4 separate regions of the Homo sapiens genome follow, and regions 2, 3 and 4 are each linked to region 1. Evidence: fine-mapped expression QTL. A gene starts in region 1. Each other region holds a variant in brackets. All regions are shown on one strand. Distances are between the middles of the regions.

Evidence for each region. PIP is the estimated chance that this variant, and not a neighbour inherited with it, causes the effect. A credible set is the group of variants that fine-mapping cannot tell apart.
Region 2: its variant is the best candidate, but not a certain one, in a credible set for the expression of TAFA2 in whole blood (TOPMed, PIP 0.65).
Region 3: its variant is the best candidate, but not a certain one, in a credible set for the expression of TAFA2 in whole blood (TOPMed, PIP 0.87).
Region 4: its variant is the best candidate, but not a certain one, in a credible set for the expression of TAFA2 in aorta (GTEx, PIP 0.51).

Annotation. Positions count from the first base shown.
Region 1 is chr12:62,190,217-62,195,216 of GRCh38, reverse strand. It overlaps TAFA2 (TAFA chemokine like family member 2), which reads left to right and starts at 2,444. Exons shown (of 5, transcript NM_178539.5): 1 at 2,444-3,958. RefSeq lists a silencer at 855-1,149 and an enhancer at 2,519-3,052.
Region 2 is chr12:62,099,506-62,104,713 of GRCh38, reverse strand. All of the region lies in intron 1 of TAFA2 (TAFA chemokine like family member 2), which reads left to right. Among named protein-coding and RNA genes, the nearest start is that of TAFA2, 91 kb to the left of the region's middle. The variant A/T (reference allele first, on the strand shown) is at 2,071.
Region 3 is chr12:62,040,835-62,046,042 of GRCh38, reverse strand. The region is part of intron 1 of TAFA2 (TAFA chemokine like family member 2); the gene reads left to right. Among named protein-coding and RNA genes, the nearest start is that of TAFA2, 150 kb to the left of the region's middle. The variant G/A (reference allele first, on the strand shown) is at 2,541.
Region 4 is chr12:62,078,242-62,083,449 of GRCh38, reverse strand. All of the region lies in intron 1 of TAFA2 (TAFA chemokine like family member 2), which reads left to right. Among named protein-coding and RNA genes, the nearest start is that of TAFA2, 110 kb to the left of the region's middle. The variant A/TA (reference allele first, on the strand shown) is at 2,052.

The DNA.
Region 1 (5,000 bases):
AATTTTGAAAGAAGTTCTACTGTGGATAAAATGCTATCAAGCAGCATTGCATGTTACAGAGAAATCTTTTGTGAAAGGAAGAGTCAATTGACACAGCAAACCTCATTATTGTCTTATTTTAAGAAATCGCCACAGCAATTCCAACCTTCAGCAACCACTACCCTGATCCATCAGCAGCCATCAACACTGAAACAAGACTCTCCATCAGCAAAGAGATTAGGAATCACTGAAGGCTCAGATCATCAGTACACTTTTTTTAAAAAAAGCATTAAACCATTTTCAAGGTAAGATATGTACATTTTTAAGACAAAATGCTATTGCATACCTAATGGACTGCAGTATGGTGTAAACATAACTTTCACATGTGTTGAGAAACCAAAAAAATTGTGTGACTCACTTTATTGCAATATTTGTGGTGGTTTGGAACCAAACCTGCAACATTTTTGAGGCATGCCTGTAGAAGGTAAGAAGTATCAACAAAAAATTTCTGTTAAATTAGGAGAATCTTTACTACTTTGTTTCCTTTGAAGAGAATGCAAAAGATTTTATTTTGTCTAGGAGATGCTGGAAATAGGAATATCTTGATCTAAAAATTATTGGGAATTATTTACAAAAAGCACAGAGGTTATGATAGAATTTCAGCATCATATGACATTGGATAAGAAATTTTGTTCTATTTTGTAATTAATTTATATATCTGTTCTCTTTACTTTTTCATATATTGTAAAAACACAGTGGGTTTAGTTAGAAAAATAAGGCTGAAAATGTCCCACACTTAAACAATACAAATAAAATTTTAACAAGATGACAAAACTATAGATTACAACCACAAAAAGTTAATGAATTAGAAGGTAGAAAGATTATAATGTATGCTTTATGTTTTTTTGTATGTGTGTGTGTGTGTGTGTGTGTGTGAAAAGAAAGCCAATGTTCTAAAGTGATTTTGTAAGTGACTTCTTTCTAGTACAGAGTCCAAGTTTCCAATGTCATTCCTGCTTGAATTTCATCACACTATTGAACACAGCAGACAAAAAAATACTGTAAGATTTGCAGTGCAACAGTGCCAGGTGTTTTAAAATGTAAACGTTGCTTTCCTGGATATAAGTTACTATGTAAGTGGAATGAAATATTTAATCACATGGCATAAATCTTTTGAAAGAGACTATCTGAGAGATCCTTGGAAACAAATGATTGCTGTATACTACTAGACAAAGTCAAATATGCCATAGAGCAATTAGTTACGGTAAAACTTGCCTTGTTTAGTTTTGGTGCTTTGTTTTAAATGATTTCAACTAGTCTCAGCTATTTAAAAAATACATTCTTTTCTTTCTTTATGACTGTGCTAATTTAGATTATCAAGTTAAAATAGAACTGCTCCAGAAATTCAGAGTGAATGGAAGGGTGTTTAATAATAACTTTAATACACATTTTACAATTTTTGAACATACAGAAACATTTTGAAAGCAAACCCCCAGCTCAAATAGTAAGTTCACAAAAATCTAAATGTTAAGGTTACAGATGGGACCTAGCTTGATTTGGACTGATGTAACAAAACTTTATAAAATCGGTGGAGCTATTTTTTATAAAAATGACCACCTCAACATAATTAAATTACTTGATGCATTTTAGATACAAAATATGGTTGATTTACTAAGCATGTTAAGATAAAATAGCTAAGTGAAGCACATATTCTATATTTCTTTGTAAATATGGTATGTAGTATTACTTTTATTTTATAGCTGGTGAAGAGAGCTTGTGATACCTAATTTGTCAATGGTTTCAGTGAATCACAGCTATATAAAAGCACAGACCTTTAGAGCTGGAAGGAATTTAGCTATCTTGACCATTATTGGTCTAGTTGAAAAAGAGGTATGAAAACTGGCTCCAAAACCAGATTCTTGAGTTATCTTTCCTTGTAAAGGACTTGTAAAATTTCCTGGGTCAGCATTCCCTTTCTTTGTTTCAGATTTTCTTTTTCTGAATTCATTCTTACTAATTATTCATTTTTGAATAGTCTTCTAATCACTAGATTAAGGTTTTGCTCATCTCCAAACATGATCGAAGTGAGCCTCAGAAGACCCTTCATTTGAGCTCATATGCACAGCGCTTAAACCGACACCCAATTTGACCAAACATGTAAGGACATGACCTTCCAGCGTCATGAATATCACGACGTTCCTTTAGCAAGGGCTTTGCTTAATAGGGCTGCAGTGAAAATCCTCCGTCTAAATCCTTGAGAAGTTGTAATTTGTAAAAATGCAAATTATCTGAAACCAGATATTTTTTTCTTTTTCTTTATGGAGAGAAACTGGTCTGTTACATCTAGTAAAGCGTTCTAATCCGGTTGACCCTCTAGAGGGAGACATAGTCCAGCTTTTATACCAGTTGCCTCCTCATCTTTTACTGTCTCGTTCTTTTTCTGCAGGACCGTTGTTTGCTCTCAACGGCAGTTGCTGGGGCTAACAGAACTGGCTGTTGGGAGAGAGAGGCGAGGCAACGCCGCCCGGCCCTGCCATTCCATTTTACTGCTTAACTCAACCTGGAGTGTCAGGACCTATTCTCCTGCATTCTCGCTGCACTATACGGGGGAGCCAAGTCACTCTGTACTCACTGGACAGCCAGGCTGGGTGGAATAGGGTTCTAGAGTGGAGCAGGGGCTCTGCCCTTTATGGCGACTTTCTAAAAGATTAGCATCAGTGTCTTTTGACAGTATAGCATCTGGGGTGGGACGCGGAGAGGAGGCTTTGCTTGCTAAACGGCTTCTTTCTCCGCCGGTGATCTGGATTTGTTTCCTCGGCCCCCTCCCCCCGCTCCTTTCTTTCTCCCCTCCCGCCTTTAGCAAAGTGACACAGGCGACACCTGCTCGCTTGTGTTCGATGTTGGAACTCGCACCTCCTCGGTGGTGACGGTGCCAGGGCACTGCTACCAGGGGGACATCGGCGGGTTTCCCTTCCTTCCAGCCCACGATGCCTAGAAGGGCAGCGGGTGGGCTGCGTGGGGCTCTGCCCGCAGCACTTCGAGGCGGGATTGAGGGGCTGAAGCTGGCCAGGAGTTGCTGCTAAGTGGATTCGAGTGGAAGGCGCCAAGTCTCCGCGAGGGCACCAGCGGGGACCTATCTGCGAGCAGTGGGAACAGGGGCACCTGGACGGAGGAACGCGGGCGTCTGGAGGGGGGACATCGGCTGAGCTCAGAGCCTCTCCTCCTTCCTGTCCCGAGCTTCCCAGCAACTCCGCCACGTTGGAGACCCGGTACCTGCGAGAGCCAGGGAACTCGAGAAGTGCGTGGCCGAGGCTGCTTTCCTGAAGGTGAATCATTCTGTCCAATTGCCTTTCCCCAGAGAACAAGAGGGAGGGCGGGAGAGAGGGAACGGAGGATGTGTGAGTGTGTGTGTGTGTGAGAGGGAGAGACGACGTGAGGCGAGAGGAAAAGTCTTTAGTCGGCCTTAAAAGCAAACAAATCAGAGATGGAATAAGAGCGGTAATTGCAGCAAGACCGCCTTGATTCTTGCAGTCCAGGGAGCTGAGCGCACCGCGCGCATCCGGCGAGGACAGGAGGCGACCGCGGGCGCTGCCAAGGGCTGCGGGACTTTGGCTTTTCCTCAGTAAACAAATCTTTTGATTACTTTGACACTGTGGAATAAAGAAGCGGGGAGAAGGATCAGGCTCACCTTCACCCGCTTCAGGGGGATTCCAGCTTGGATGTCAGATTCCTGAACCGTCTTTGCCATCGGAGGAGGAAACACATCCACACACGCGCGCGCACACTCGCACGCTCAGGGCCACACTCACACGCCGCCCTCCACGATCACACAGCACCAGACTTCGGTTCCCTATGCCCCTGGATGGTGACGGCGGATTGGCATCTTGGAAGCGATGCGAGAGCGATAAGGCTGGCGCCGGCCCGCAAAAGCTGCAGGAGCATCGCTAGGTGTTGCCGCCACCGGGAAGCGGGGCTGCAGGTAGGTGCGAGCCGCGCCTCGGGTCGCCGGCCAGCGCTGGGGACCGGAGCGGCAACTGCAGGACCGCGGTCCCGGAAGCCCCCGTGTGCACACGTCTCCCTTCCCCTTTCTCGGGGGTCCGGGACTGTAGAGGGATCGCCCGGGGAAGGCGAGAGGTGAGGGCAGATGCGGGTCCATCGGCCGGCGTCTCCCTCGCGGGCGGTCAGGGTAGGGGCGGAGTAGAGGGACGCCGAGAGGGGATCGGAGCATGCGAAATGAGGCTCCGTGAGCGGTGCCCTCCCTCTCTGCCCCATTTCTCCTAATAACAGCAAACGACCAGGTCGAGGATTGAAGTGGGTTGTAATTCGATTCCTCACCCAGACCCATCCTGGCTGGTAACCATTTTGGACTCTTAATAAGGAGTTGGGGGTCGCATTCCAGGGAAGATCAATGGGATGTGTCAGGTCATCTTTCTGAAATCCCTACTTTTTGTCCACTTCTGATTAGTTAATTCTCAGGCCTGTTTGCAGAAGGTGGGTGTTTCAGCGAGTCTATTGATTTATCCACCTCTAACTATCTTCATAAAGAATCAAGCTGATAATTTCCGGAGCCTCATCTATGTAAGGTTTATTTAGATTTGGGACGGGGCGCTTTCTTACTGAATGAAATAAAGCTTTTGTAAAGGCTACTACAAGAGAGCTTTAGTAAATGATTCTCTTAACGAACAGCGTTCAGAATAAGAATGGCTTCGGGAAACTAATGGTTTTTTATTTCTTTCCGGTTAGATGTCTCCCGGATCTTGCTACTAGTACCCGGGTTTTCTGCTAACTGCTTTGCCATTCCTTCCCCCTTCAATTCTGAAAGGCCAGGTGCCTACCAAGTATTGTTTTCTTGAGGCTACTGATCTTCACTTATCAATGGGGGAACGTGTTATTTTCAGAAACTGGCTTTGCAAAGGAAAGTTTGAGATCCGTCGCCCTATTTCTCTCAGAACTGCAGGTTGAGTTATCCTGTCTGAAAAGGAAGAACCATAGACGCTCGTAGAGCCTTTGGGTGGACGCGA
Region 2 (5,208 bases), 91 kb after region 1:
TTGTACCATCAAGTCCTCTTAGTTGAGGACTAGTTATTGCTTATCTTGAAAATATGTATGTAATGATTTGTATCTGTGTGGCTGTATACAAGAGTGAGATTTCTTTCATTCTCTGGAATCTCTAAGCAGATTACCTATGATGCACATTCCATTTTGGTTTAATGCTTATTCAATGGTAAAAATGTTTTCTTTCTTGCTACTTTTATGGATAAGATTTCTGGGTTGGGAAAAGATTTTGTTTTTAATTCTCCTCAACAAAAGACACGGGCTAATATAAAAAGTAACACTTTGACCAGCTTGTGACTTTAGTTGTACTATGCTTTTCCTTCTTTAATCAGATGCGCAATTCAGAGCAAACCCTGGTGTCTAAAATCGCTGAGGGTTAATCAATATTATGTAAAAAGAAAAAGACCATTACATTAGCTTTTTTTTTTTTTGCTTCAGAAGAACAGCATTCCAAATTCAACTGTGAAAGCTATTGTGAAGATAGGATTAGCTAAATGGCACGTTTGTCACTTTTCCTTTTAATTATTACTCAATAAATTCCCTCAAACAAGCTATATTTAGGCTAATTTTATTCTATTAAAATTATCACTATTCATTTTAAATATCACTTGCTTTCAATTATATTGTAGGATTCTGCAAAATGTTAAACTTGGCATTGCCAACTCAAAGGTGACTTGTGGTACAGGAATGATTTATGCCTGTGGAATTGCAGAAGTCTAAAAATAGGTCTTGATGTTACTTTAATATGTACTGCAGTACACAGGCACAATAGGGTTAGAGGAGGATGGAGTTTCATCCCTAACTCTCAGTTTTCCTGCTTTTGTCTCTGAGTCTGAGCAATGCCTGAATAATTAGACATTGTTCATTTATCATTTGTATCATTTCCTATCAATGCATACCATCCTGCCCCTCCAGTTCCCAGGTGTTTATGAGGAAGCATGTAGTCTTTTTTTTTTTTTTCTTTTTGAGAAGGAGTTTCATGCTTGTTGCCCAGGCTGGAGTTCAATGGCGCAATCTTGGCTCACCGCAACCTCCGCCTCCCGGGTTCAAGCGGTTCTCCTGCCTCAGGCTCCCGAGTAGCTGGGACTACAGGCATACGCCATCACACCTGGTTAATTTTATATTTTTAGTAGAGATGGGATTTCTCCATGTTGGTCAGGCTGGTCTCGAACTCCTGACCTCAGGTGATCCATCTGCCTCAGCCTCCCTGTAATGCTGGGATTACAGGTGTGAGCCACCATGCCTGGCCGGAAGCATGTAGTCTTTAATAAGCCATTCTGCACAACTCTAGTTGCTGTTTGAAGACACCCTTCATATATTGGACTGGATAATAACAGATCATTGCTGGTTCTGATGGGGTAAGTGTGTGATTTTGACCTTAGGATGAAATTGGAAATGAAAACATCCAGCTAGACATACAGCAAATATTACAGATTTGAAGAAGTAGTCAGTGTTAGCAAGGTGAATGCCAGAAGTTCTGGGGAAGCAACATTTCTGAATGAACAGCAAACAGGATTTTGGTCAACGTTTCCTCCAGTGCGATGCTTCTGATTTCAGCTGTAATGAGTGTAAGATGACAGTGTTAAAAGATGCTTTTCTTCAACTTTTCTGAGTGTGAACTCTGATCAGATGAATGGGAGTCATGAAATTGAGTTCACACATCTATTGTCAGCAGGGCTAGAGGTTGCATGAGCACAAGGATGTGCTGTAGAAAGAGAAGTCGAGGCTAGTACTACCCAGAATATATGTGGGAAACATAAGTTTCTCTCCTCTTTGGAGAGACTGTAGTAGACTGCTGATAAGACAGATACAAAGGCGATGGACCAACTGTGCTCAGGACAGCCCTAGAGTCTTCTTAAGTGAAGTCTATGAGTATTAAACATGGTAGATATATGATTTACCTAAATATGTGCTAGCTTATTTTTCCTCTACCGTAATACATCTTAGTATTTTTCTCTTTCTTTAAGCTGATGAGGAAATTGGGTCCAGAGTACATTATTGTATCATAATACAGGAATTGTTCAGATTTAGGAGGTAGCTCTGGAGTTCTCTATAAAGCCATGT[A/T]GTTTAGAACACTTCTGACACTGCTGTTTAGGAAGTAGTTCAGCTCATGGGGTTTACTGGAAAAGATCTCAGGAATCACCATTTCAGCAATCATTGTACATTCTGTAAAGATTTCTATGTTGCTATGGTGCAACAATGTGGAACACGTTACCCTAGTCACCAGCTGTCAATTTAAATACACACTGGGGGGAGTAATCTAATTTTCAGAGAGTATTAACTTGATCTTAATAAATGTTGATGTTTAATTTAATTGTGACCTTCAAGTTACACTTTTCTGAAGAAAAATATCTCATGTTTTCACAACATGAACTGTTGAAAAGTCATGATATTGCAGCTGATTTTTTAATGGACCCAGAAAAATATTTTAAAAATAGCAATAGTTTCTACCTGAACCCAGACCATTCCACTTCAATCCAAATAACATTCTAGTGAATCTCCCCTGATTGCTTACTTTAAACTCAAAGAAAATATAATCAAGGGAGGACAAAGCACAAGTATAATGAAAGCAGGAAGAAAATTTCCTTTTATGCTCTTGCAGTTAATTATATAGCAAGAAACAGCTTTCTCCCACCTGCTCTCCACCTCAGCTTCTTAACTAGGCAAACTCCTACTTGTCCTCCAAGACCCATTAGTACTGTCACTTTTTTTTTTCTATGAATCTTTCTCCAACCTCCTGTCCCACCCACAGGCAGAGCTAATTGCTCTTTCACCATTTTGTCAGCACTACTATGTGTTTTAGGATTTATCTATTTTTACATCTTCCTCCTTCCTTTTCCTGTGGGTTCTTTGAGGACAGGGACTATTCCTTTTCATTTCAATATACCATTGGCTAGTGCTACACTTTCATTTCAATATACCATTGGCTAGTGCTATACCATTGGCTAGTATTAGACTTAGAGTAGGTACTCAGTAAACAGTAAAAATTGAGATAAATGAAAGGGCTCTCAAATAGACTCCAGAAATGGTCCATTCCTACTGTGCTGAAGTAGAACTTACTGTGTAGGGTAGTGATGGTACATGCCATCTGATGGATTGCTCTTATAGAAGCTGCACAAAAGGTTCTGTGGCTTATCAGCTGCAGAGCTGCCTTGGAACCTGCTTGAACTCTACAGTGTTTACCTTTCTGAATAAGAGTTACGTTTGGGCTTATGGAAGAACTAACAATCTAGGGAAATTTGGTTACCAAGTATTGCATGATGAGTGTGCATCTCCAGGTAAATGCAAAGTGTATTCAGTGTATATTTCCAGCTAAGTCCAAATTCGTACTGGACATGGTTATGGATCAGAGATGTATCAGTTCTTAGCACCTATAGACTCATTTAGGAATTAGTTTGATAATTTGATGTCAGCCATGGCACTGTATTGGTTAAATCCATTAGTCATGTATGTATTGGCTCTTAGGGATCTTAGGTGGGCATGGGTAATTCGTTCCATAATCTAATCTATGGAGCTGTTCTTATATTTGAGGGGTCTCTTAGGATCATCAGGACTCTTCTGGGTCCTGGTTTATTCTGGGGCACTCTTGAGAAGTAGATAGTTGTTGTTGGGTAATCTACTAACCTAGGCCATTTCTGCATTCTGAGTGCTTGTGTATAGATATATCTGAAGTGTCTGCAAGTATGGGTATGTTTTAAGGTATCAAAACTCAACATTATTCTGTAGGAAAATGTAGGGTGCAGTATAACACAGTGATTAAGACCTTTTTTCCTGACATACCTATATCACTTAAACTTTTACGCTTCAGTTTCCTCAATTTCTGTGCCATGGGAATCCAATAATACCTACCTTTATGCCACTGTGTAGGTTGGGCATTGTACATTTGCAAGGAGTACCACTCACCTAGTAGTCCATATAACTGGCACTCAAAAGTTTTGAAGAGCACAATGTGCATACCACAATGGGCAGAACTGTTTGCTTATGAGATTAGTGAGTCACTGCATGCAGAGTGCCTAGTGCAGTGCTTGACATTCAAGAAGTACACAAGTGATGATCTTCATTGTTATAGAAAGGTCTACACTGTTCTTTTAGGATGACTGGATGGGATGAGATGTATGATATAGGCTATAACAAGATTTTCAAGTGATCTAACAGGTGGGTAAGGGATTGCAAATATGATCTAGTCCATAAATCATTGCTGGAGTCTATATTTAGAAGTTAGCTAGTATACCAGAAATCTCAGACCAAACTGTACAGGGGTATAAATACAGCCACTTTTCATGTATTTGGAAGCAATTTTCTATCTCCAGCCTTCATTTCTGAAATTTCAGTCCTTTGGGATGTAAATGTTACTAGGAGTAAGGGAATAAACCAAGGAGGCCTCTGACATAGTGGTTTCAAAGACTTTGGTAACATGGAATTGACTTTTTCAGTTCTTCCAGAATTTTAATGGCTCTCAATGAACATATAATAGTTAAACAACATGGTGTTCTCGTTTCCCACCCAGAGAAGATTGAAAGAACAAACTTGAAGGGCTGTGTGTGTGTGTGTGTGTGTGTGTGTGTGTGTAGAGGGAGTTGCTATTATGAAGAGGCAGTGTTTGTGGCAGACATAATGACAGGAAGTGGAATAATCAAAAACTTGACCTTGAGGGATAACAAGAAAAATAAAAAAATTCATATTGATAATTATCCTTGAGACTTTGAGAAAATACATTCAATATTTTCTACTTTAAAAGAATATTTACATCTATAATTTGTTCTCATTTTATAAGCATTTATTGAATAAAACATCATCTAAATGAAAAAAATTTTTCTGACTCAGAGTCAGACTGTATTTGCATCCAGATCCATCTCTTAGGCTGAAGTGATGTGGGCAAGTTACTTATGCTCTGAGCTTTGGTTTACTGATCTGTAAAGTGAAGGGGATACTTCCCACCATGCAGGGGTGCCACGGGGCTGGGATGACATCATATATGTGAAGTGCAGCCAGCAAGGGCCTGGCATATTGCTGGCTCTTGGTGTATTATTTGCCTCCTCATATGCTTGGCAAAATTTATTTATCTAAAATGCTCCATTCTCAATGAGATTTTACTGCATTGCTATTTCTCCGACTGGAAGTTAAATTTATAATGCACATCCTATGCATAAATGGTCATTGAACTCAGTAATTATAAACTTTGAATGTTCTAAATATTGCCAA
Region 3 (5,208 bases), 150 kb after region 1:
TAGCTAGTTTTCCTCCTTTCCGATTTCACCATTCATCTTATTTTCCCTCAGAATTTCTTTTGGATCACAGTTCTCATTCTTAAGTTCTCCGTTAGCTCTCAGATCTCTTGCTCTGGTCTTCCTTACAGCAGGCAGTTTGTATTCTTTCCTGTCTTTTGTTGACACTCTGTATACAATACTGGTTAGGGTAGCCTCCTTGCTGTTGGTTATGTATGTGTTGTGAATGATAAAGTTTCCCTCATACTGTTCTGGGTAGCCATTGTAATTTGATTGATTTTGGTAAGGAGAGAGGAAAAAGAAAAAAACATTAGATTCTCTACATATAGTGTTTCTCAATTTTTAAAAACAGGAACATCTAAAATAGCTTCAGGTTAGAATCTGACACTTTAGCATTAGGCTACTGCTTTTTAATAGAAGACATAGCAAAAGTTTGTAGAGCATAATTTTGAAAGCATAACATCTTTAATCATAAATATTTTGGTTGTTTGTGAATATTTTATTTTTGGCTTCAAATTTCAGAATCCACAGCACTTTGCTTTGACAGAAAGCAGCTTTGTTTTACTGGTAACATCTCCCCCAGGGAGGTCACTACGTGCATCGTGTGATGAAATCTGGATTTTTGTCTTATAAGTTATTCCCAGGAGAGCATGAAACTTAAAAAAAATTTCTTGGTCAGGTTCCAGCCAAAAGCATATAGTATTTAATGAATAACTAATACAGATAATTAACAGATTAAGAGAATGTGTGAGCCCAAGCATGAACAGAGAAGTTGGGAGGGAAGGTATCAGCATAAAAAAAGTTGGAAATGAACAGGGCAACTGGAGCATGAATGAAATCAATTTAATTGTATGGATTTATATTTCTTTGGAAGTACATTCTTATTTATTTTTCTGTACGACCTAGGCTGTGTCTACATTAAGTAAAGAGTATCTGTGCCTCAGATGTCTGCCAGATAAGCTAGTTAGGTTTCTCCATAAAGAAAGCTATTGCTATATCTAACGGATGATTCAGTCTGTTCTTCCCTGCAAAAAGAATGTTGTCTTTGGTATCCAGGGCCTTAAAATGTCAGGCACAGTGATTTTCCAAGGGCCCAAGGAACACAGATGGAGGTGCTTCTCTGCCAAATTTTAGGGGAAGCAGAATTCAGCCTGATCATCCTGGGTCTTATTCTGTTCTCACATGGTTTAGAAGCTTGCAGGAGATTGATCGTTTGCCTTCATTTTTCCATTATATCTGGGAGAGATTTTAAGCTCAGCTGTTCAACCAGCATTTGGATAGCAGTACCTAAAAAGGCAGAAAGATAAAGATGGAGCCTAGTTCTCATGAACTTTTCCAAAACCAGTTGGCCCCCATGTTGTTTGGCACGTGACTGAAGTCTGCCTAGGACTGTTGATTTAACAGCAGGTAGGAAGCAAACAGTGGAGCTGGACAAAAAGAGCAGGAGCCTGAGTTGAAAATCACTTGCCATCTTCATGTTTATTAGTCCTGGTTCTCTTGGTCTGTGCCACGCTGACACCTGCCTGGTGTAAGCCAGAATTCAGGTTATGCGGGCTTTCTTTACTTGTGGGAAATGTCCACACTTGGTCTTGTTTTATCCCCAGAATCTTGCCCTTTGCTCCCTTTTGATAGCCCCTTTCCCAGACTTAGATTCTTAGCATCCTTGTGATCCATTTCCTCTCACCACTTTTTGTAATTATAGACTTTTTGTTACTCTAAGTAGTATAAATATGGTAGAAGTTTCAAATGTTAAAACACTCAGATTATTGCCAATTTTACTAGTATTAAGAACTTGAACTAAAAAGCTTTCGGCAATTCAAACAATAGGAAATACATGAGGAGTAGAGGAGATTTTGGAATCTGAGTTTTCCTGGTATCTTAAAAAAATACTTTTTTTTTTTAACACCCACTGCCCAATAATACCTTAGGAGCATACTGTTAGTGGGTTCTCAAATACCTCTATGTCTGAAAGTATGCATTGCAAAGATGGAAAAAGGTTTGCAGATTGTGTAGAACACTTGCAAGCCTCGAGAGTAATTAATAGTTTTGTGAATTGAAGGGGATTATATTTGCTTTAGAGTGTTAGAACAAGTGCCACTTGTAACTTTTCTGTGCTTTCCCTCGTTTGTTTTATTTTTCCAAAGTAGTTATCATAATTGTTAATACAGCCTTCAATCTAATGCCAGCAAAGCTTTTACAAATCTCCATAAAATGCCCCAGCATGTGGTTTCAATCAATGTGTAGGGATTTATGGATTTGACATAGGATGAAACTATCATGTATTATATGCAAGATATAATTCTTACCTTTGAAGATCTTAGATTCCTTGCAAGATGCTTAATATAAAAACACCAAGTAAAATTTAAAGATATATTTAATTAATACTTGAGATTCAGTTACCATAATAATTCTTTTTTTTAAATTTTATTATTATTACACTTTAAGTTTTAGGGTACATGTGCACAATGTGCAGGTTTGTTACATATGTATACATGTGCCATGTTGGTGTGCTGCACCCATTAACTCGCCATTTAACATTAGGT[G/A]TATCTCCTAATGCTATCCCTCCCCCCTACCCCCACCTCACAACAGTCCCCGGAGTGTGATGTTCCCCTTCCTGTGTCCATGTGTTCTCATTGTTCAATTCCCACCTGTAAGTGAGAACATGTGGTGTTTGGTTTTTTGTCCTTGCGATAGTTTGCTGAGAATGATGGTTTCCAGTTTCATCCATGTCCCTACAAAGGACATGAACTCATCATTTTTTATGGCTGCATAGTATTCCATGGTGTATATGTGCCACATTTTCTTAATCTAGTCTATCGTTGTTGGACATTTGGGTTGGTTCCAAGTCTTTGCTAGTGTGAATAGTGCCGCAATAAACTAATTAAATGAAAATATTCTTCTTAAATACAGCAGGATTTAATACATACATTAAAATATTGTGAATTAAAATGACATATTTTACATTTCTGTTTTAGGAATGAAAAATAACTACTTATAAATGTTACTTTTGTCCTTGTTATCTGTGGCTGACATCTCTATCCCCCTTTTATTGAAGATATAATTTTTATTTTATAAAACTATAGTGATCTTTAGAAATTATTAAGTTCTGATGATGAGGACCCTACAGAAGGGGAGGAAAGGCAGGGTGCTGACGGTCTTGCATTGGGGCAGATCCAAGGAATGGTCACCACACAGGTTGTGTTTAAGACTGGGCTGGATGTAGCACAATTAACCTTGCCAGGATAGATTATGCTTACAGGCGACCCCGCTGGAATGAGGCAGGCATTGAGATGATATGTGTGGTTCAATACAGTTGATGATATGGAGGGCACATTATAAAGATGTATAGTAACAGAAAAAATATAGGCTCATCATGGAGTTATAAGTGTTTTGATAGGCAAGGTAAAGTAATATCATGCAAGTACTTAGGATTCTAGGTAGATATGTAGGCTGGTAAAACAAGAGAAACCATTCAACTAATAGTAAGGTTTCAGGTACTAGAACAGAATTCAGGGCAAGGCTCTATTCCAGCAGGGACACTGGCCAGATGAAGGCAAAGTCTCAGTTTTTGAGACATACTTGCATTATGCATGTCACACACACACACACACACGCGCACACACACACACACACACACACACACAGACTTCAATGCAGAATTTAGGACTAAATCTGGTGGTCAGAATTGGGATGCAAGCACCTGAACTGGATTAGCAGCCAAGGAGACTTATGCTGTTTCTGTTTGAACCTAATTGTGGCCTAGAACTGTTAACAGTGTTCCTCCATGAGATCAGGATTGACCTAGACACTGAGCAGAGTTGAGTATTTACGTGCTTTTGCTTGTAGGGATAAGAGAGCTTGGGAATGGGTACGACTCCCCATGAAGGGGTGTCTTCTGCCTTGAGGATTCCCTTCAGATATGAAGGAGTTGCCACAATGGAGGCGGCCTTCTTTGAGACTTTCCATCCTGATCATTATTTGAAATACATTAATATACAGTATTAAGACCACATGGATAAATTAAATGCCTCTCAGAGATCCTTTATAGCTCTGGGATTCTGAAAATAAGCATTTCATAATAAAAAGAATGCTATATCATTTGCTCTTTTGTATTTTTGTATTTTAAGCAATATTGAAATCTTCTTTCAGAATTTACATCTGAATGAAAGTTTGCCTTAAAATGAAGTAGGATAATCTTTGAAAAAAATCTTCTAGGGTTGTGAGAAATCTTTATTAAAGCATAAACCTTTATGTAATCTTAAGCATAGCACAAAAACATGATGTTAATAAAAGCACTTAGATTCTATATTGTAATGTACCTATGGTTTATGTCTTGATGATTTTTTACTCTTTATTGAGGAGAGGAATAACTAAGTATACATGCAATTCAGATAGTTACTTCCAAATTCTGCCTTTAGCTAGATGACCAGTTAAAGTTGTTCACCTGACCAGAAAAGCCATTTTACTAACACATTTGTGGGAAAATATTTTATTTTGTCAGCAGTAAACTCTGATTACCTTTATGTGAATGGTTTCTTCAGCCACCTTATGCACAATGTCCTAGATAAGAGAAATATCTTTTAACTATTTCTGTAAAGTTACAAAGCTTTAGTTTCCGAAATCCACTTTCAGTACCTTCCTCACTTTAATAACTTTTTTCATGGAGTTCACCAGTCCACAGGAGGCCAGTTATAGTGCCATGCAAAGAATATGAGTTTTGGGGGCAATAGATGTGACTTTGAAAATTTTTCTTTTTTTCAAAGCTCTCTGATCTTGGGCAATTGACCTAACATTTCTGTGTTTTCTGACCGATGAAAGGTGGATAAGACACCTCCCTCAGAAGATTGTAGATATTACATAAGAAAACAGTTAAATCAATAACATAATGCCTGCAGGCTTATAATTTCACATAAAGATTAGTTTTTTCTCAGCTTTAGTTTCTGATATGAACAATATAGATACTGCCTACCTCATCAGATTGTTTTGAGAACAAATGATAAAAACGGTCTGAATAATAGGGTCTTGTTAGACATATAAGTGTTTGTTTATTATTAGTCTTTCTTGTTCACGGCTCAAGTGCTCAAAAATATTTTGAGATTTCCTAATCACATGGCCTGTTGAAGTTGTTCTTTTGACCAGAAAGGTCATTTTAGAAAAACAATAATTGTTTAGGAAGTTTCTGTGAAATTTTTACATGTCTCTCTTTATATT
Region 4 (5,208 bases), 110 kb after region 1:
ATGCCCCAGAAAAATGTTTACCTGAATTTTGGCTAGGGGGTGTCCAATAAGTATTTTTCTTCTTTTTGGAAACTCCTTTACTCTCTTCTGAGAAGACACTCTTGTAATAGCAGGGAGGTATAGAAGGAAGAAGTTGTCATTACCATTCAGAAACTTATAGAAACTGTAGTAGTGCATTTTCCACCCAAAGAAATGATTCAGATAAGCTCATATGCAAATCAGGTCATACGAGATTTATATCAGATCAGATTTCTCCTTCAGTTCATAATCCTATTAATAAAACGAAAACAGCTTTTCAATCCCCGGTGCCTGGAATTTAGAAGATGCTCAGCAAATATTTACTGGGTAACAGAGCCTACTGGTTAAAAGCCTGAATTCCAGAATGAGATACTGGGGATTTAGATCTTGGCTTTTACTGGCTGTGTGATCTTGGGCAAGTTTCTGTTTTTGCCTTGGTTTCCTCATCTGTAAAAGGAGGTTAGTAATAGCACCTACTCTCAAAGGGATGTTGCAAGGATTAAATGGAAAAAAAATCACTGTAGAGCAATGCAGATTAATAGTATATCTTGTGTTAAGTGTTAAGTTTCCTTTTTTGTGAATGACTAAATGACATAAATTATTCTTAGAGGCTATATTTTAAATTTATATTGAATATTCTTCAGAATTCAATTGAAATGTTCCACTGTGATGAGTTGGTGACTGGTTATTATTTCAATACTTGATGTAATTACTGTTTCCTTTGCTTGACTTCATATCCTACATCAAAAGATTCTATGTGCTCAGATGTTTAAGTGCTCCTTGGAGACTTAGTCAGAAATCATGCTCCTTGGAAGAAATATCTAAACTTGACAAGCTTCATGAAAGCAGGGCTGTGTCATGTGTGTCAGATAGCCCCAGCGCCTCACTGCTTGGAACCATATCTGGCACTTAGCAGTGCTCAATGTTGGTTGCATCAACAAACATTGACTGTGCTATGCCCCTTGGAATGCAAGATAAACAAGATGTGATATTTGTACACCTTAAAAAAATAGCTGCTTACTACTAAAGATGAAAGGAGCATTAGTGGAATAGGAAGTGCCTCAGGCCACATTAGAAAAAACCTAGAGGCAGAAATACCATTTGACCCAGAAATTCCATTACTGGTATATACCCAAAGGAATATAATTTGTTCTATTATAAAGATACATGCACACATATGTTCACTGTGGCACTACTCACAATAGCAAAGACATAGAATCAACCTAAATGTCCATCAATGATAGTCTGGATAAAAGAAAATTTGGTACAAATACATCATAGAATACTAGGCAGCCATAAAAAGGAATGAGATCATGTCCTTTGCAGGGATATGGATGGAGTTGGAAGCCATTATCCTCAGCAAACTAATGCTGAAACAGAAAACCAAACACTGTATATTCTCACTTATAAGTGGGAGCTGAACAATGAGAACACATGGACACATGGGGGTAACAACATACACTGGGGCCTGTCGGGGGTGGGGAGGAGGGGAGGGAGAGCATCAGGAAGAATAGCTAACGGATGCTGGGCCTAATACCTAGGTGATGGGATGATCTGTGCAGCAAACCACCATGGCACACGTTTACCTACCTAACAAACCTGCACATCCTGCACATGTACTCCTGAACTTAAAATACAAGTTGAAGAGGTTGGGCGCGGTGGCTCATGCCTGTAATCACAGCACTTTGGGAGGCTGAGGCGGGCGGATCATTTGAGGTCAGCAGTTCAAGACAAGCCTGGCCAAAAAAGTGAAACCCCGTCTCTACTAAAAATACAAAAATTAGCCAGGTGTGGTGGCGGGCTCCTGTTGTCCCAGCTACTTGAGAGGCTGAGGCAGGAGAATCACTTGAACCTGGGAGGCGGAGGTTGTAGTGAGTCGAGATTGCACCACCGTACTCCAGCCTGGGTGACAGAGAGAGACTCCATATCAAAACAAACAAACAAACAAACAAAATAAAAAACAAAAAAAACAAGTTGAAGAAAAAAATTGGAATCTGCTTCTTGGTTCTTTACCTAACTTGCTGTGGAAAAAT[A/TA]TTTATTCTTTCTCAGACTCAGGGTTTTTTCCACTTGTGAAATGAAGAAAGTAATTCATGTTTTACCTATTTTATATAGTTTTTTAAATAACGAATGTGACAATAATTATGAAAGTAACTTGAAAAATTAAAGTGATTAAATAATTGCAAATATTTTCTTAAAATTCTATAAATAGAAATAATATATAGGGGAATTTTTTTTGTGAGATGGAGTCTCGCTCTGTCGCCCAGGCTGGAGTGCAGTGGCGCGATCTCGGTTCACTGCAAGCTCCACCTCCCGGGTTCACGCTGTTCTCCTGCCTCAGCCTCCCGAGTAGCTGGGACTACAGGCGCCCCCCACTACGCCCGGCTAATTTTTTGTGTCTTTTCGTAGAGACAGGGTTTCACCGTGTCAGGCAGAATGGTCTCGATCTCCTGACCTCGTGATCCGCCCGCCTTGGCCTCCCAAAGTGCTGGGGTTACAGGCGTGAGCCACCGCGCCTGGCCAGGGGAATGTTTTAATGCAAGGTCAAATAGATCATTTATCAAAGGTTTAGGAGGCTACTTTTTAATGAACCTGTTGTAGAGATTACTTTTCATGGACATTAACAGAAAGATAAGTTGAGACCATTTTTTTCATTTCCGTCACCTTGTAAATTTTAGAATATAAATATTTTATTTATGACTGTATTTATGACTATTTCATACAAAGTGGCAATCATTGTTTTACAAATTATGAAACTGAAGACCAAAGAAGTTCAGGGATTTAATAGATGCACACTACATTATGTATAGATTTTAGAATTTTGTAAAGTTCACATATGTGTCAAATCAGAGAAGCCATACCAGTAGCACACATTCATTCCCATGTCTATGATTCACTTTTACTTTTTTTTTTTCTTTTCTTTCTACCCAGGGGATAATTCAATTTAGTGCATGATTATGTGGTAGAAAGAAACTATTATCAGTAGGAAGGGTAATGTGGTAGGCAGAATTTTAAGACAACCCCCAAGATTTTCACCCCCTGTACATACTTGTATAATCCTCTGCCTTCAAGAGTGGGCCAGAACTGTGAATAAAAGGGACTTTAAGACAAGAAAAACATCCTTGATAAGCCTGACCGAATCAGGTAAGCTTTTAAAAGAGACTGGGCATTTCCTGGAGAAAGGGATTCTAAGTGAGTGGGATATACATATCCCTTTGACATAAGGGAGAATCTTTGTTGCTTGCTTTGAGGATGAAGGGGGCCCTATGGCAAGAATTGTAGCTGGCCCCTCAGAGCTGAGCAGCCTCTGCTGACAGAGAGTGATGAATTGGGGACCACAGTTCTACAACTTCAAGGAACTGAATTCTGCTACCATTACATGGTCTTGGAAGAGCACTTGAGCTCCGGATGAGAATGCAGCCTGGCTGACCCCTTGATTTTAGCCTATAAGATCTGAGCAGAGAAACCAGTCTCTTTGTGCCTGAAATTCTGACCTGTAGAACTGTGAGCTAATAAGTGGGTATTGTTTTAAGCTGTCAAGTTTGTCGTAATTTGCGATGTGGCAGTAGAGAATTAATAAAGAGGGAAGATACTGACTTTGCTGTTAGTGTGCTGCTTGATGCACTTTTTTTGTGAGAAGCTTCACCTGATAAAAGTGGATAGATTGGGTCAGATTAACCTGAATATCCTAGAATTATTTTGAGACAGGAATGTTGATTTTTGATCACAGATTTAGTAACAACATGCTGTTAAAAATTTTTTTTTTTTTTTGAGACAGAGTCTTGCTCTGTCACCCAGGCTGGAGTGTAGTGGCACGATCTCGGCTTACTGCAACCTCTACTTCCCTGGTTCAAGCAATTCTCCTGCCTCCGTCTCCCGAGTAGCTGGGAGTACAGGCACATGCCACTATGTCTGGCTAATTTTTTTTTTTTTTTTGTATTTTTAGTAGAGACGGGGTTTCACCATGTTGGCCAGACTGGTCTCAAACTCCTGACCTCAGGCAATCAGCCCTCCTCAGCCTCCCAAAGTGCTGGGATTACAGGTGTGAGCCACGGCGCCCGGCCACTGTTAAACTTTTATCAAGCCACAGTGTTGTCTACAGTCCCAGAGGCCTATCAGGAATATCAACTAATTTGCAATTAATTGATAAAATATATATTTGATAGAGAGGCATGTATGGGTGATCCAGTTGTAGCTGGGTGTATGGGACCAACAATTTCCCTAGGCTTCTTTGTTCATGGGTAGACTTGTTTAGAGGAAAGCATCCTGCAAGGGAGATGTTAGTGTGTGGTTCCTGAAGAGCTGACGCTGGAGAGAGGGGCAGCTGCAGATGATAACATGGCATCGTAAACTCAGTGTGACTTCACTGGCAACACTCGAGTCCTTTAGAAAGAAAGGCTGTAGTTGGAAGCTAAAGAATTGTTTTTAAGAAAAATTTGTGAAACATGCCCATAAGCTGAACTACATGGATCTCCAGGGGACAAAGTGAACCAGGGTGGAGCATTTTAGTGTTCTTCCCTCTTCCTCCTGTCGCACATGGCATTGCTCTGGTGATATGAAGGCCATAGCTCATGATGGAGGTACCCAGAGTGTCACTGTAGTTCAGATAAATATTGGCTCTTGCATAAATAGAAATTAACATCACGCCAAAAAGAAATTTTTCTCAGGCAAGGTTTAATAGGCTTGCAGCTCTAGCAAGACAAGGGAGGAGCATAAGGGAAAGAGATCCTGGTGCCAGCTCCCCAAAGGGCTAAGCTCTTGTCATTTTAAGGAAGCTGAAGCGAGAAAAGGAGTGATGTGTAGGCACGTAGAGGTGGGGAATTTTTAGCATCTGCACAGTCTGATAACATGCTTCTTTATGTGTCATATGTCTCATTGGCCTGTTAAATCTACACCCCTGGGTGTGATTTTAGTATTATAATGAGATTATGAAGAGGAAAAAAATCAGTGAAAGGCCAGTGCTGAGTCCAACTTGTCTTTAGCTGGCTGGATCTGATCCAGTTCTTTTTTTTTTTTTTCCAATTATACTTTAAGTTTTAGGGTACGTGTGCATAGTTCTTATGGGGAATGCCAGACTCTTCCTTTTGTAACCTTGGGAGATGGTCAGTTTCTTATCAGGAATACCAGAGTCCCACTTTAGCAACCTTGGGAGACATTGTTCAAGGAGGTAAACGTTAGGCTCTGCCTTTTATG